2 separate regions of the Homo sapiens genome follow, and region 2 is linked to region 1. A link means that fine-mapping ties the variant in region 1 to the expression of a gene that starts in the linked region. Tissue or cell type: whole blood. Region 1 holds a variant in brackets; the other region holds the start of a gene. All regions are shown on one strand. Distances are between the middles of the regions.

Region 1 (8,750 bases):
TGAATAAAAGTAGATAGGTTATTTTAATGAAACTTACTCAGGCCAGCATGGTGGCACATGCCTGTAGTCCCAGCTACTCAGGAAGCTGGGGTGGGAGGATCGCTTGAGCCTGAGAGTTGTAGGCTGCAGTGTGCCATGATTGTATGTGTGAATAGGCACTGCAGTCCAGTCTGGGCAATATAGCAAGACTCTGTCTCTAAAAAAACTTGGAAGGAAGGAAGGAAGGAAGTTACTTAAATATAGTACAGTATAGATATTGATATAGAAAAATTAATGGGTTGATGGTAGAAATGGCTGAAGTCTTGGAAATGCTGTTATTGATAATCGGAAGCCAGTGGAGGGAGTTTTAAGTTTTAAGGGTTTTAAGCACAGGGCAAGGAAGAGCTCCTAAAACAAGCCTTGTTTGGACTGTGGGTTCCTTGAGTGTCAAGATTTAGTGTGCCACAGTGGATTTGAAAACCCTAGCTGTTAGCATAGAACACTTAGCCTGTGCTTAATTTGAGGTATGCCAGGGTATGCCATCCACCAGTGATGTGCTTTATTTTTATTTTATTTTATTTATTTTTCTTTTCTTTTCTTTCTTTTTTTTTTTTTTTTTTTTTTTTTTTGAGGTGGAGTCTCCCTCTTTCCCCCAGGCTGGAGTGCAGTGGCACGATTTCAGCTCACCACCACCTCTGCCTCCCGGGTTCAAGCGATTCTCCTGTCTCAGCCTCCCTAGTAGCTGGGATTACAGGCACCTGCTACCATGCCCGGCTAATTTTTGCATTTTTCTTAGACACGGGGTTTCACCATGTTGGCCAGGCTGGTCTTGAACTCCCGACCTCAAGTGATCCACCCGTCTTGGCCTCCCAAAGTGCTGGGATTGCAGGCGTGAGCCACCGCGCCCGGCCCACTGGTCTGCTTTAAAATTCAAAACCTTGCATTTATTTCTTCTATCCACTCCTGTCATCACTCAGTTGCATGGATGCCTGGAAGGAGCTTGAAGCTCTGGCATGATCTGATCAGAGCCTGCGGATGGGTGGGAGTTTCCAGTACTCGTGCCAGCAGGCTGGTGAGCATATGCATCCGGCTCCTCCTCTGCAAACATGCTGAGTCCTCCCAACCTTGATAACGCTTCAACCCCTTCTGGGAATATCTCCTTGAGTGGTGAATGCTAATAAGTGTCTGATGCTGTCGCCATTTCAGCAGCTCTTAGGAGACTCTGTGGTTTTCTTTCCTTTTTTTTCTTTTCTTTTTTACTTTTTCCCCGTTATCCATCAGCATTTATGCACATCGTGTTTTATGCATTGTGATCCTCTTAGTGCCTTGGATATGTTGTTTGGACCTTCAGTTACACAGTGCCTCACTCCCTGGAGGTCTAATGATGCTCAGGAAAGACAGAGAAAAGAACTGCCTTGCAGCATTTTTGCATCAACACATTGATTCCTACATCCCAGCCATGCCCAAAGTGGTTAAAAAATGAAGTTTTCATTTAGAGCTACGGGTGGTAGTTTAGAACTGTTGGGAAGTTACTAAATAGTCACATTGAGCTTATGTTTCCACTCAGCCTGATAACCAAATAGTTTTTTTATTTTTTATTTTATTTTTATTTTTTGAGACAGAGTCTCATTCTGTTGCCCAGGCTGGAGTGTAGTGGTGCGATCGCTGCTCACTGTAGCTTCCGTCTCCCAGGTTTAAGCGAATCTCCTGCCTCAGCCACCTGAGTAGCTGGGATTATAGGTGCCCACCACCATGCCTGGATAATTTTTGTATTTTTAGTAGAGACGGGGTTTCACCATGTTGGCCAGACTGGTCTTGAACTCCTGACCTCAGGTGGTTTGCCCACCTTGGCCTCCCAAAGCGCTGGGATTACAGGCATGAGCTACTGCGCCCGGCCCCAAATAGTTTTTAATTTCTCGGTAATAAGCCGGCAGGATTTTAACCTTAATGAGGATTTCTTCAGGGCCCTACGTTTCTTTTTCTTTTTTCTTTTTGTTTTTGAGATGAAGACTCGTTCTGTCACCCAGGCTGGAGTGCAACCTCTGCCTCCCGGGTTCAAGCGATTCTCCTGCCTCAGCCTCCTGAGTAGCTTGGATTATAGGCACCTGCCACCATGCCCAGCTAATTTTTGCATTTTTAGTCGAGACAGGGTTTCACCATGTTGGCTAGGCTGGTCTCAAATGCCTGACCTCTGGTGATCCACCTGGTACTCCTAAAGTGCCAGGATTACAGGAGTGAGCCACTGCACCCAACCAATACTACATTTCTAAATCTGTATTTTCAAAGACTTTAGCTAAAGACTAGAATGTGTAAGTTGCACGTGTGTCCGAGCTATGCCCACCCTTTCCTGGGCCGTGTTTAGTACCGCAGCCACATCAGAGCAGAATTGCAGGTGGCTAATGGCCCCTGCCTTCCCATCTGTACAGAATACACGGAGAGCACCCCAGTTCTAGGGCAGGCCGGAGTCTGTTGACAGACATTTCTCCTTATCTTGTTTTCACATCAGCTGCAGCACGATTTCTGTTCAGAGCAAGCGTGGGTGGGGGTTCCTCCCGCCCTGCCCTGTGCTAGCTGTTAAAATAGGAGGGTGGTTTACCGTATTGTTTTTCAAGTAAAGATCAGGCCACCAGGAGTTGGTGACTCCAGTGGGTCACTGGCGGTGTTTGTTCATAGCAAAGAAAAGTCAGCCCAGCTCTTTTGGGGATACATCAGTAATCTACATAGCAGCCATTTGATTTTGAAGATTAGGGTTTGGGGGGGAAGTTTGAAGTTTTGTTTGACTGCTAAGAGGAATTAGATAGCTCTCAAAACATTTTTCAAACTCAAGTAATTGGACTCTCCAAACAACGGGAATGGTGGCATAACAGACCACTAACATTTCAATTGCGCTTTCCAATCGACAAAGTACTTTTACATATGTGATTATTCCCTTTATTACAGAAGAGAAAACTGAAGCTCAGAAATCCCAGCTATTCAGGGGGCTGAGGCATGATAATCGCTTGAACTGGGAGGTGGAGGTTGCAGTGAGCCGAGATCGCAACATTGCACTCCAGCATGGGCTACAAGAGCAAAACTACGTCTCAAATAAATAAATAAATAAAATCCCAGTATATGGTCTGCACACACTACACATTTATACCCACAACTTCAGATTAAAGTGAACATTAATGACCGTACTGAAGCAAATAGAGTTCCAGAGATTTCTAGTGACTGAGGGCGCTAGAATTCGAACCCAGATCCACTGCCTCCCACTTCTGGATCCTTTTTCCTCCACCATCCTCCCTCACACTTGTTTCCATCTTCTTGTCCAATGTGAATTGTTTATTTGCTGCTTCAGCATACAGCACCTCAGTACCTTGATAGTCAGGACTTAGGTTGGGCAGGATAGCCACATTAAATAAGCAAGGATTGAGTCATTGCGTTGCACCATAGATACATGGGTTTACAGCAACTTAGAATAAAGAAAAGAGGAAGCAGCTGCTGTGCTGGGAGCTTCATAGACCTGACACTGTCCAAGGGGGAGTATATTTATATACCTCCTCATTTAATTCTCAAACAGCCTCCGGAAACACATTCTCTCATTTTCATCTGACAGTTAAGAGCACTGGGGCGTGGCGATGTAAGGAAACTTGCCGAAAGTTGCATAACGAGTCAGTGATGGAGCCTGCATTTGAACCTAGATTTGTCTCATTCCAAAGCCAGCCCTGTCCAACCCGCACATTCTCTCAGTGAGGAAACCAGGGTGGTGGAATGACTGCTCTGGCAAATTAAGGGCAGAGCTGGGCTCAGCCACGTAGTCTCAGTGTTCTTGCCAGTATACCTGGCAGATCTCTTCTCTTAGAGTTGGAATTCTCCTCTGTCGTATTAGATGAAAAGTTGTCAACATTGCAGATGACCTCCTCTCCCCCTACCCATACCCCCATAGTCACGCCAAATTTTTGTTGCAATTCACACCAGGCATGGATTTCTATCTTCTGTTGCTCCCCACCTTCCAAAATCTTCCATGCCCCTCATCTAGGCTCTGGCAAAAGTTGTTCCCAAGTAACACTATGTGACCATTTGAATTTTACATTTTCTCCCCACCTTGCAACAAGGCAGGAGAGAATGGCTTTGGAACTATAGAAAATTAGGATGGTATAAGGCTAAAGAAGAGCAAGAAGATGGATGCATTATGTAATGAAAACT[G/A]CACTCACAGTATGGGAGAGCCTGGGGCATATGTTTGGTAAGGCAGGTGCCAGCTGTGAGGATACTAGAAACCAGGTGTGGGAGCATCCTGGGTGCCGTGTGTGGAGGCTCACTGAGTTGCTACAATGGTCAGAACCTAAAGCTAGTTCCCTAACTCCCAATGATCCCACAGCCCCCACATTCCATCCACCCGACACCCAGCACTCCCCATGCCTCTGGAAATCTATTTGCTTCAGTACGGTCATTAATGTTCACTTTAATCTGAAGTTGTGGTTATAAATGTGTAGTGTGTGCAGACCATATACTGGGATTTTATTTATTTATTTATTTGAGATGGAGTTTTGCTCTTGTAGCCCATGCTGGAGTGCAATGTTGCGATCTCGGCTCGCTGCAACATCCACCTCCCAGTTCAAGCGATTATCGTGCCTCAGCCCCCTGAATAGCTGGGGCTGCAGGTGCCCAGCACCACACCCAGCTAATTTTCGTATTTTTAGTAGAGACGGGGTTTCTCCATGTTGGCCAGGCTGGTCTCGAACTCCTGACCTCAGGTGATCCACCTGCCTTGGCCTCCCGAAGTGCTGGGATTCCAGGCGTGAGCCACTGCGCCCGGATTGGGATTATTTTTAAATCTTTTCGCCCCTGATGGAGGAGGGGCATGGGAGGGAACTGGTATCTATTAGGTGCCTGCTGTACCTAGGTTATTTTATTTAATCCTCATGGCAACACTCAGTGTCTTACAGATGGAAAAATGTGATCTTCATCTTAGAGAACTCACAACTCAGAGGAGTGTGGCACGTGGAGTCACCGAATTGAGTTTGAATCTTAGGAAGCTGCTATGTGTTCTTGGCATTTCCTGCAACCTCTATGCTATCTCTTCTTCTGTGAAATGCCTGTGGATAATATTATCCACCTTCCAAAATTATTGTGAGAAACACATCAGATGACTGATTTTTCTTTTTAAATCTTTCTTTCTTTCTTTCTCTTTCTTTCTTTCTCTTTCTTTCTTTCTTTCTTTCTTTCTTTCTTTCTTTCTTTCTTTTCTTTCTTTCCTTTCTTTTTTTTTTGAAACAAGGTCTCCCTCTGCCACCAGGCTGTAGTGCAGTGGTGCAATCTCTGGTTACTGCAACCTCCGCCTCCAGGGCTCAAGCGATCCTCCCACCTCAGCCTCCTGAGTAGCTAGGACTAGAGGCAAATGCCATGACAGCCAGATAATTTTTGTATTTTTTTGTAGAGACATGGTTTCGCCATGTTGCTCTGGCTGGTCTTGAACTCCTGAGCTCAAGTAATCTACCTGCCTCGGCCTCCCAAAGTGCTGGGATTACAGGCATGAGTCACCATGCCCAGCCCAGATGACTGATATTTCAATGTCTTGTAATCTATTAAGGTTTACGTAAATATTATTGTTTAGCTTTGGAAATCGATCAAGGAATTGACAATGGTACCCAGAGCCCAGCAGTGGAACTAGAGGTCGTGTTGTTGGTGGTGCTTTATTCACTTGGCCGTATTCAGTGGGTAGGTTTGCAGCATGAGGTATCATGTGTGGGTACTAGCGGAGACCCGACATGCTGCACATCTGAGAGGCCAAGAGAAACTGAGGTAACCATCATTCCCCCGGGAGCAGCACCGCTGTTGGAGTGAGGAAGAGGTCAGTCTCTTATGATTAGGTAGAGATCCAATTCCTCAACACTTTGAACTAGCACAAAGTCCCCAGTGCTGAATGAGATGGGCTGACATCATAAGCTTTGTCTCCTCCTTTGTTTAGGCTCTGACCAGAGTTACACATGGTGAGTCCATTTTTAAAATTCATTTCCCAAGTTTGGGATTTTGTTAAGCTTTATGGTTTAGTGGATACAGTTAACAATTCTTTTCCAAACACCATTACATCTTAAGTTTTTTTCACATTTTTCAATGTAAATGTTCATATGTTCATCTTACTCACTCTCATAGTTTACTTCTGATCTTTTTTTTTTTTTTTTTGAGATGGAGTCTCGCTCTGTCACCTAGTCTGAAGTGCAGTGGCATGATATCGGCTCACTGCAACCTCCACCTCCCGGGTTCAAACAATTCTCCTGCCTCAGCCTCCCCAGTAGCTGGGATTACAGGTGCTCACCACCACACCCAGCTAAATTTTGTATTTTTAGTAGAGATGGGGTTTCACCATGTTGGTCAAGCTGGTCTTGAACTCCTGGCCTCAGGTGATCCACCCTCCTCGGCCTCCCAAAGCGCTGGGAATATAGGCATGAGCCAAAGCACCTGGCCTACTTCTGATCTTGATGTTAACAGTAGGGGATGCAATTTGTAGAGGAAGTGTGTTTCTGACAGGTGAGAGAACACTTCATGTAGGGTGAACAGTAAACTGTCCCAGACAGGGATGTGCTATGTAGATGAGCACTGGGAAGCCTGTGTTTTCTCAGAGCTCCTGAAGACACCCTGCTCCACATTAAACCAGAATCATCACGTCTCATCACAAAAAGAACATTAGTGTTATGGGGTATATTTTCTGTTTCATATTAAAAATTCCCAACCCCCAGCATTCTGACCCTGTCAAGCCCACGGGCTGCTACTAATTTGCATGGTTGTGTGATTTGTGTGATTCTGCTCCATCTGCTTTGAATTTCTTGGCTTCTTTGTCCAAGACGTTAATAACTCTAGTCATTTCTTGTGAGGATTTAAGGATGTTATTGATTGATTTTGGATTACAAAGAAACAAAAAGACAGTAGGCAATGTTCTAATTGGGTCTTCTTATTGTGCACTGTAGCCTGAATCCCCCAGGGTAATTAATATGAAGTGCAAAAAGTTGAATGTTCCAGTCTAAAAGGCAGTGGGAGAAATTACATAGCATGGAAATAATAAAATGAACTCTTATTAATGAGAACGAGGCTCTTGCAGTGGCAAGTTCTGCTGGTCACCCGATGGGGATGGGAGCCTTTCAAGCTTTTTTTTGGGTAATACTCACAGTTTCCAACGTCTGTGTACTTTTCAAAATGAGCTTGTTCTTCCTTCTGACACTCATCTCAAAGCTCCATGGTGACGCAGAGGTCTGTTGAAGGTCACAGGGTCCTCGCTTGCATTGGCATACGGTCCTGTAGCATCACTTGTTAGCCCACTGCTGCTTGAAGGAACTAAGAGTATTCAGGGATAGAGAGCTGAAAATAGGATTAATTCTTTCCTTTTGACTCTCCCCTCAAGATGTCCTTGCTTTGGTCTGAAAACCTCTCCTGACAACTTTTGCCCAAAGCAAACCATCTGCCTTTTCTGAACTCTGAGTGAATATATTAGCATCTTCCCTTCTGAGCCCTCGTACTGCCATGTTTGTTTGTTTGTTTGTTTCCAAGAAACTGTGTCTTGCTCTGTCACCCAGGCTGGCATGTAGTGGCATGATCATGCTCACCGCAGCCTCAAACTCCTGGGCTCACGTGATCCTCCTGCCTCGGCCTCCCAAAATGCTGGGATTACAAGTGTGAACCACCACGCCCAGCTGTAATGCCACATTTCAATCTTCCCTCCCAGTGAAGACGACCGTTTCTTTGAGGACAGATGCTGTGTTCTTTACTTCTCTATGTCTCCCTTAGTCCTAACATGTGGCTTCCAAGTAATGCAGCGTATGCTCAACCAAGAGGGATGGTCAGCAAACAGCCCATGAGGAAAAGTAGCATTTGTTCCTAGGAAAACCGAATTATTTGCTTTAGTAATGAATCCAAGTCCAACATAGTTACGTGCAAGGAAACATTTCATCCAGAATACTAATGACATCAGCATGGAGAGAGAAGAGTCTAAAATAAAGATCTTTTTAAAGTACTTAAAGGAGGCCAGAGAATATCATCACATAAAGTATAATATAGGACCCTACCCCTACCAAGCACGGAGATCCCTTGCCTTCATCGTTCAAGGTCAGATTGGAGATTTCAGAGAACCCTAGGTTGCAAGAAACGTGTTTGGAGTTTTGGGGAACAGATAAAACAGTAAGCAGTAGGAAAAAAAATCACCAGGTTTTTTTTTTTTTCAGATGGAATTTTGCTCTTGTCGCCGAGGCTGGAGTGCAATGGTGCGATCTCAGCTTACTGCAACCTTTGCCTCCCGAGTTCAAGCGATTCTCCTGCTTCAGCCTCTCGAGTAGCTGAGATTACAGGCGCATGCTACCACACCCGGCAAATTTTTGTATTTTTAGTAGAGACAGGGTTTCACCATGTCAGCCAGGCTGGTCTCTAACTCCTGACGTCAGGTGATCCACCCGCCTCGGCCTCCCAAAGTGCTGGGGATTACAGGCGTGAGCCACCGTGCCTGGCCAGATTTTTAACTCAGGAAAAATTTATATTCTCCTCACTCATCTTTGAATTATACTAACATCATTAAATGAAGGAGTGGAATTGCTATAAAACTTACTACTAATCCTGATTCTGCATTCACTCATCATTTGTTTTCTCATTTATTCACTCATTCTATAAACAAATTGGACACTCCCTCAAGATCAGTGCTGTATCTGATTCCTTTTGAAATGTCCTCTTTCCTCTTTCCCCCAAGCCTCGCCCACAGCAGGTACTTAGTAGATGTTTACTGAACAGGGTTGGTGGTGGACATGCCACTT
Region 2 (5,000 bases), 43 kb before region 1:
AGACATTTATGAAGCTTTTCCTAGCTTTTCAACGTCAACACAATTAAAGCACAATGCATCTGAATTGCCAGCCCCCCAACCCAGTGCAGAACAAATGGCAGGAGTCCTAAATAAAACAGGGGTTTGCACTGAGCTGAAGACAAGTGAGGAAGCCAAGCTGGGATTTCTGTAAAAGTGTCCCAGACAAAAACAGTTTGCATCTCAGGTGCCTAGTTTTTCATAGTGCTTTTTCCAGTCTACCTAAAACTATTTTTATATGCATCATTTCCTTTATCTTACAGTTTGCCTAAAGGCAGGGAGAAAGACAATTAATTCAATTTTTCTGGAGAAACAGAGATCCAGCAATTCTATGTCAAGGGGCATAGATGGAGTCAAAAAACTATCTTAAAGGCTGGTGTCCTTTTATCATCATAACAATGGTCGTTAACTAGTTGTTTGGCCAAATGTTAAGAGTTCAAATCTTGGCTCTGCCATTTACTAGCCATGTGACCTTGGACAAGATACTTGACCTCTGGCTCAGCACCTTCATTTGTAAAGTAGTTCCTAGTTCATAGTCTTGTCAAGGAATTGTTTGAGTCACATATGTAAGAAGCAAAGAACAACACCAGCATATAGTAAGTACTCAATAAATTTGAGTTATCATTTATGTAGCGCTTTATGGTTTACAAAGCGCTTTCACATACATTATTATCTCTTGACTAAGATCCAGATCATTTGACTTTCAGCCCAGGCATTTGGAAACAATTCAGAATACTGGATAAAATCCAGCATGTTTTACCGAACACATCCAAGGAGGCTAATACTAGGTATGGTGTTGCCAGCCCAGTCTTGTCTTTTTGCTCCATGTCCTGGAAGAGCATTCTGCAAGGTCTCCAGGATATCCCCTTTGCTCTGGAAGCAGCTACTACCCAGGAAGCATTAATTTTCCCTCATCCTTTGTACAGCAGGAGGCAGAATTAATACACATTGTTGCTTAAGCTCCAGCTGTCTTATCTCCCTGCTTCCAAACACCACTGGCTATTCTTTAGGAAACCAATTCCGGGCTCAGGGAGTTACACTGTATCATTTCCCCTGGTAAAACCTTCACAGGCCTTATAAAGCAACCTCAAAAAGCCACTCCATGGGTGCTGGTCACCATCCCTCCCCCATATTCCAACCAGGGACAGGCCCGGACTGACATTTCTGGAAAACCCAGTGTGTGCAAGGTTAGGTTACCACGGTCCATACCAATGAGGAAATTAGGCTGTAGAGAGAAGTAACTTGTCTAAGGCACCGCAGTGGATACGAGTGCTGTAGCTACGCACTTACCAGCTCTATGATCTTCCCCAACCTCTCTGAGCTGAGTTTTCTCATCTGTAAAACTGGGATAATGATTAAACACACTCCTAGGGTCAGTATAAAACTTCAGTGAGTTCATTCATTACGATTAGCACAATGACTGGCACATACAAGAGCCCAATAAATGTTAGGTTTTATTATTATTATTACCCAAAAAAGACTATCAGTTAGGGTGTACTCATTGCCTCTTTCATTATAGCAAGTGGGACCCTTGTCCCTGACTGAAGACAATGACTTTGTTTCCAAACGAAAGAGGGTTAGCATCCCCCAGCCAAATTCACCAGGTGGGGCATGGGGCATCAATATGGTTGTGGCTTCCACCATCTTTGCAGTGGGAGTAGTTTTGTCCAGCCTATGATACAATTCACTTATTATTGTGCAGTGGTGATTCGGTCCGTCTTTGAATCCTTTTATTGACAGGATATCCACTCCCTAATGAAATAAGCCCGTTCCCTTTTGAACACCTCTTATAATTAGGAAGTATGTTTTCTCTGTTCCTTCTTCCTCTACCCTCCTAGCCCTTCCTTCTTCTCCTCCTCCTTCCTCCTTTCTTTTTCCCTTCCCTCTTCTTTCTGCCCTGTCCCTCTTTTCTTGTCCCCTCCCAGGTCCTGCCACCTCTGAGAACCTGAGGTCCTTCTCCCCAACCCCTCTGCCCCACCGGGAAGGCACTATTCAGTCACTGACCATAACCTTGTAGAGCGCAGTAGGTCTTTAGTGCAGCCACTTGGCCGGCTGATTGGGAACTCAACTTCCGATGGTCCTAACAACCCTTTGGGTTTTGCAGGATCTTTGAGAAGCAAAACCTTTTACCTAGGCCTTACGGCTTGGCCTTCTGGTCCATTAGTATCATCCACCAGTTCACCCAATTTCCATTAATAACCGCATCTAGAATCACATGAAACTTGAGATGGGTTGATCTCCTGTCTTGAGGCCCAGCTGGGCGGGTATGCCAGCCAAGGAGAGGGCTGGGGCGCCGGGGGTGACTCTCGGGAGGTGAAGCACACAAGCAGCCCATAAGGTTGGGATCCTCCGTCTCCAAGTAGCGCGACTACAGCTCTTGCCCGCACGGAGCAGCCTCGGACAGCGCGGCCGCTTTAAGAGAGGGGCGGGGCCCGGGTACAGGCAAGTCAGGGCCAGCCCACAAGGCTCCTTTTCCTTTTTGATCCATTCAAAAATTACTCATTGCAAATTCCCGGACTGCTAGGCGAGGAGAGGGAAGGGGGCGGAGGAGACAGGGCTACTGCAGGCGCAGAGCTGGGGGCAGCCGGGGGCCCGAGTGGCTGAGGCTGGTCCCGCAGCGGCCGCTTGCCGGCGTTCTGGCTCCTGTGGCCTCACCAGGAAGCGTCAGAGTCCCGACACTGGGGAAGCTCGGAGCGCCGCCTCCGCTGCCGCCGCCTCCTGCCTGGCTCTGGGTCCCCGAGCCCCCTCCCCTGGCCCAGCCCGACTCCCTCCTCCTTCCCGAACCATCCGGCTCGGGCTCCTTCCCTGGCGATGGCTGGCCGCTGAGCCATGGCTCAGTACGGCCACCCCAGTCCGCTCGGCATGGCTGCGAGAGAGGAGCTGTACAGCAAAGTCACCCCCCGGAGGAACCGCCAACAGCGCCCCGGCACCATCAAGCATGGATCGGCGCTGGACGTGCTCCTCTCCATGGGGTTCCCCAGAGCCCGCGCGTAAGTGGCCGGGCTCGCAGCCCTCGGCGACCCCTCCCGCGCGCGCGGCCGGCCCTCGGCTTCGCTCCGGCTCGCCTCCCAGCGCCTGCGGGACAGGCAGCGCGCTCCCCGCTGCCCGAGACCTGTTGGGGGCGGGATGGGCGCGCTGGCAACCCGGGACTCGGCTCCGGGCGGGGGTGCGGGGGAAGACGCGGCGCGGGGGCGTTGGGCCAGGGCTCGCCGTGGGATGCCTAAAGCTGGGGGACGAGGGCGCGGGGTTCGAGTCCCGGGTATAGTGCTCAGCCTCCGCCCCAGCCGGGTGGAGCTCAGCGTTTCTCTCGCGCGCTCCCCTAGGTCTCCAGCGCCGAGCGCCTAGGGAGGCGGGGCCCTGCGGAGGACTCGGGCACCCTCTCCGTCTGGAATACTGGGCTGGTCTGGGATCCTCCGGTGTCTGGGAAAGGGCGGGAGACTGCGGGGCAGGGAGGCCGGCGCCCCCGTTGCAGCGGCTTCCAGCTCCGGATGTCGCTCTCGGGTTCGGTCTCCCCCTGGAGTAGGAGGAGCGGGAGCGTGGGTGTTCCTGCGTGTTCATTGATGGGGAGGATGGAATCAGAAGGAGAAGCGATCCCTCCAGGGGACCTGGGTTCTCGTCAGTGGTGACGGCAGCTCAGAAATCTGTGGGTGCCTGAGAGTAAGGAGGGGGAGCTGTTCTTCATCCTTCCTCTAGGAGAGTGGGGTAGGGGAGGGCAGGGAGAGCGCAGGTGGCTGCCCCTGGAGCCTGCTGGGGAGAGGCCTGTTTGCCAGCATAGGGTGGCGGCGGCCGGAGTCGTCTCAGGCCGGTCGGCTCAAGTCTCAGGGGCTGGAACTCTGCCTAAGAGGAAGCCAAGGCCCAGCGGCCAGGCCCTTCTCCCCTGGTTAATCCCTGCCGTGCAGATTTCTTAGGTGGGGACACAAGGCCTGGCGTCCGGACTGGGCGCAGCTTCTTTTCATCTTTGAATTACAGCACCTGAACAGGAGAGTTGGCCAAACTTAATCAGTGAGGGCCAAGTAAATGAAAGTCCTTTTTATTTTTTTCCCTTCTCACATTTTTTTTTCAGGTGATAACTTTATTTATGTATTTATTTTTCTGAGACGGAGTCTCGCTGTGTCGCCAGGCTAGAGTGCAGTGGCGCAATCTCTGTAACTTCCGCCTCCCAGGTTCAAGCGATTCTCCCACCTTAGCCTCCTGAGTAGCTGGGACCATAGACATGCGCCACCACACCGGGCTAATTTTTATATTTTTAGAAGAGATGGGGTTCTGCCATGTTGGCCAGGCTGGTCTCGAACTCCTGACCTCAGGTGATCCACCCACCTCGGTCTCCCAAAGTGCTGGGATTACAGGCAATAACTTTATGTCTCCCCTCCCTTATCTCTGGGCAAACCTTGTTTATTCTCTACTAACTTGGTTGTAATCTGTTAATCAAAGTAGACCCTTGAATTTGTTATTCTCCAGGCTGCTGGGACACGTTGGAGTGGCCTTAGAAGGCTGCAAAATGGACTGATGGTTTCTGCCTTCCACTGACGTCCCAATACGACTTCCTAATACTAGGGCTCCAGTTCCTGATACCAGAATTACAGGGAGAAAATGTGGGTTCTGCAGGGGTGTGTCAGGTGTGGACGCTTCAGGTGAAGTCGTCGGTGTGGATGATCAATGTGCACAGCTCTCCTTAAAAACTGGAGGTGGGGCTGGGTGTAACCCCAGCAGTTTGGGAGGCTGAGGCAGCCGGATCACTTGAGATCAGAAGTTTGAGACCAGCCTGGCCAACATGGTGAAACCCTGTCTTTACTAAAAATACAAAAATTAGCTGGGTGGGGTGGTGCATGCCTGTAATCCCAGCTACTTGGGAGGCTGAGATAAGAGAATCGCTTGAGCCCAGTAGGTGGAGGTTGTAGTGAGCCAAGATCGCACCACTGCACTCTAGCCTGGGTTACAGAGCGAGACTTCATCTCAAGAAAAAAAAAAAAAAAAAGCTGGAG

Evidence for each region. PIP is the estimated chance that this variant, and not a neighbour inherited with it, causes the effect.
Region 2: it holds the start of UBASH3B, and the variant in region 1 is fine-mapped to the expression of UBASH3B in whole blood (INTERVAL, PIP above 0.99). The same link has a PIP of 0.9 or more in neutrophils.

The regions. Positions count from the first base shown.
Region 1 is chr11:122,694,374-122,703,123 of GRCh38, forward strand. All of the region lies in intron 1 of UBASH3B (ubiquitin associated and SH3 domain containing B), which reads left to right. Among named protein-coding and RNA genes, the nearest start is that of UBASH3B, 43 kb to the left of the region's middle. The variant G/A (reference allele first, on the strand shown) is at 4,165.
Region 2 is chr11:122,653,203-122,658,202 of GRCh38, forward strand. It overlaps UBASH3B (ubiquitin associated and SH3 domain containing B), which reads left to right and starts at 2,520. Exons shown (of 14, transcript NM_032873.5): 1 at 2,520-3,008. The coding sequence starts at 2,848. RefSeq lists an enhancer at 2,425-2,926 and a silencer at 3,130-3,179.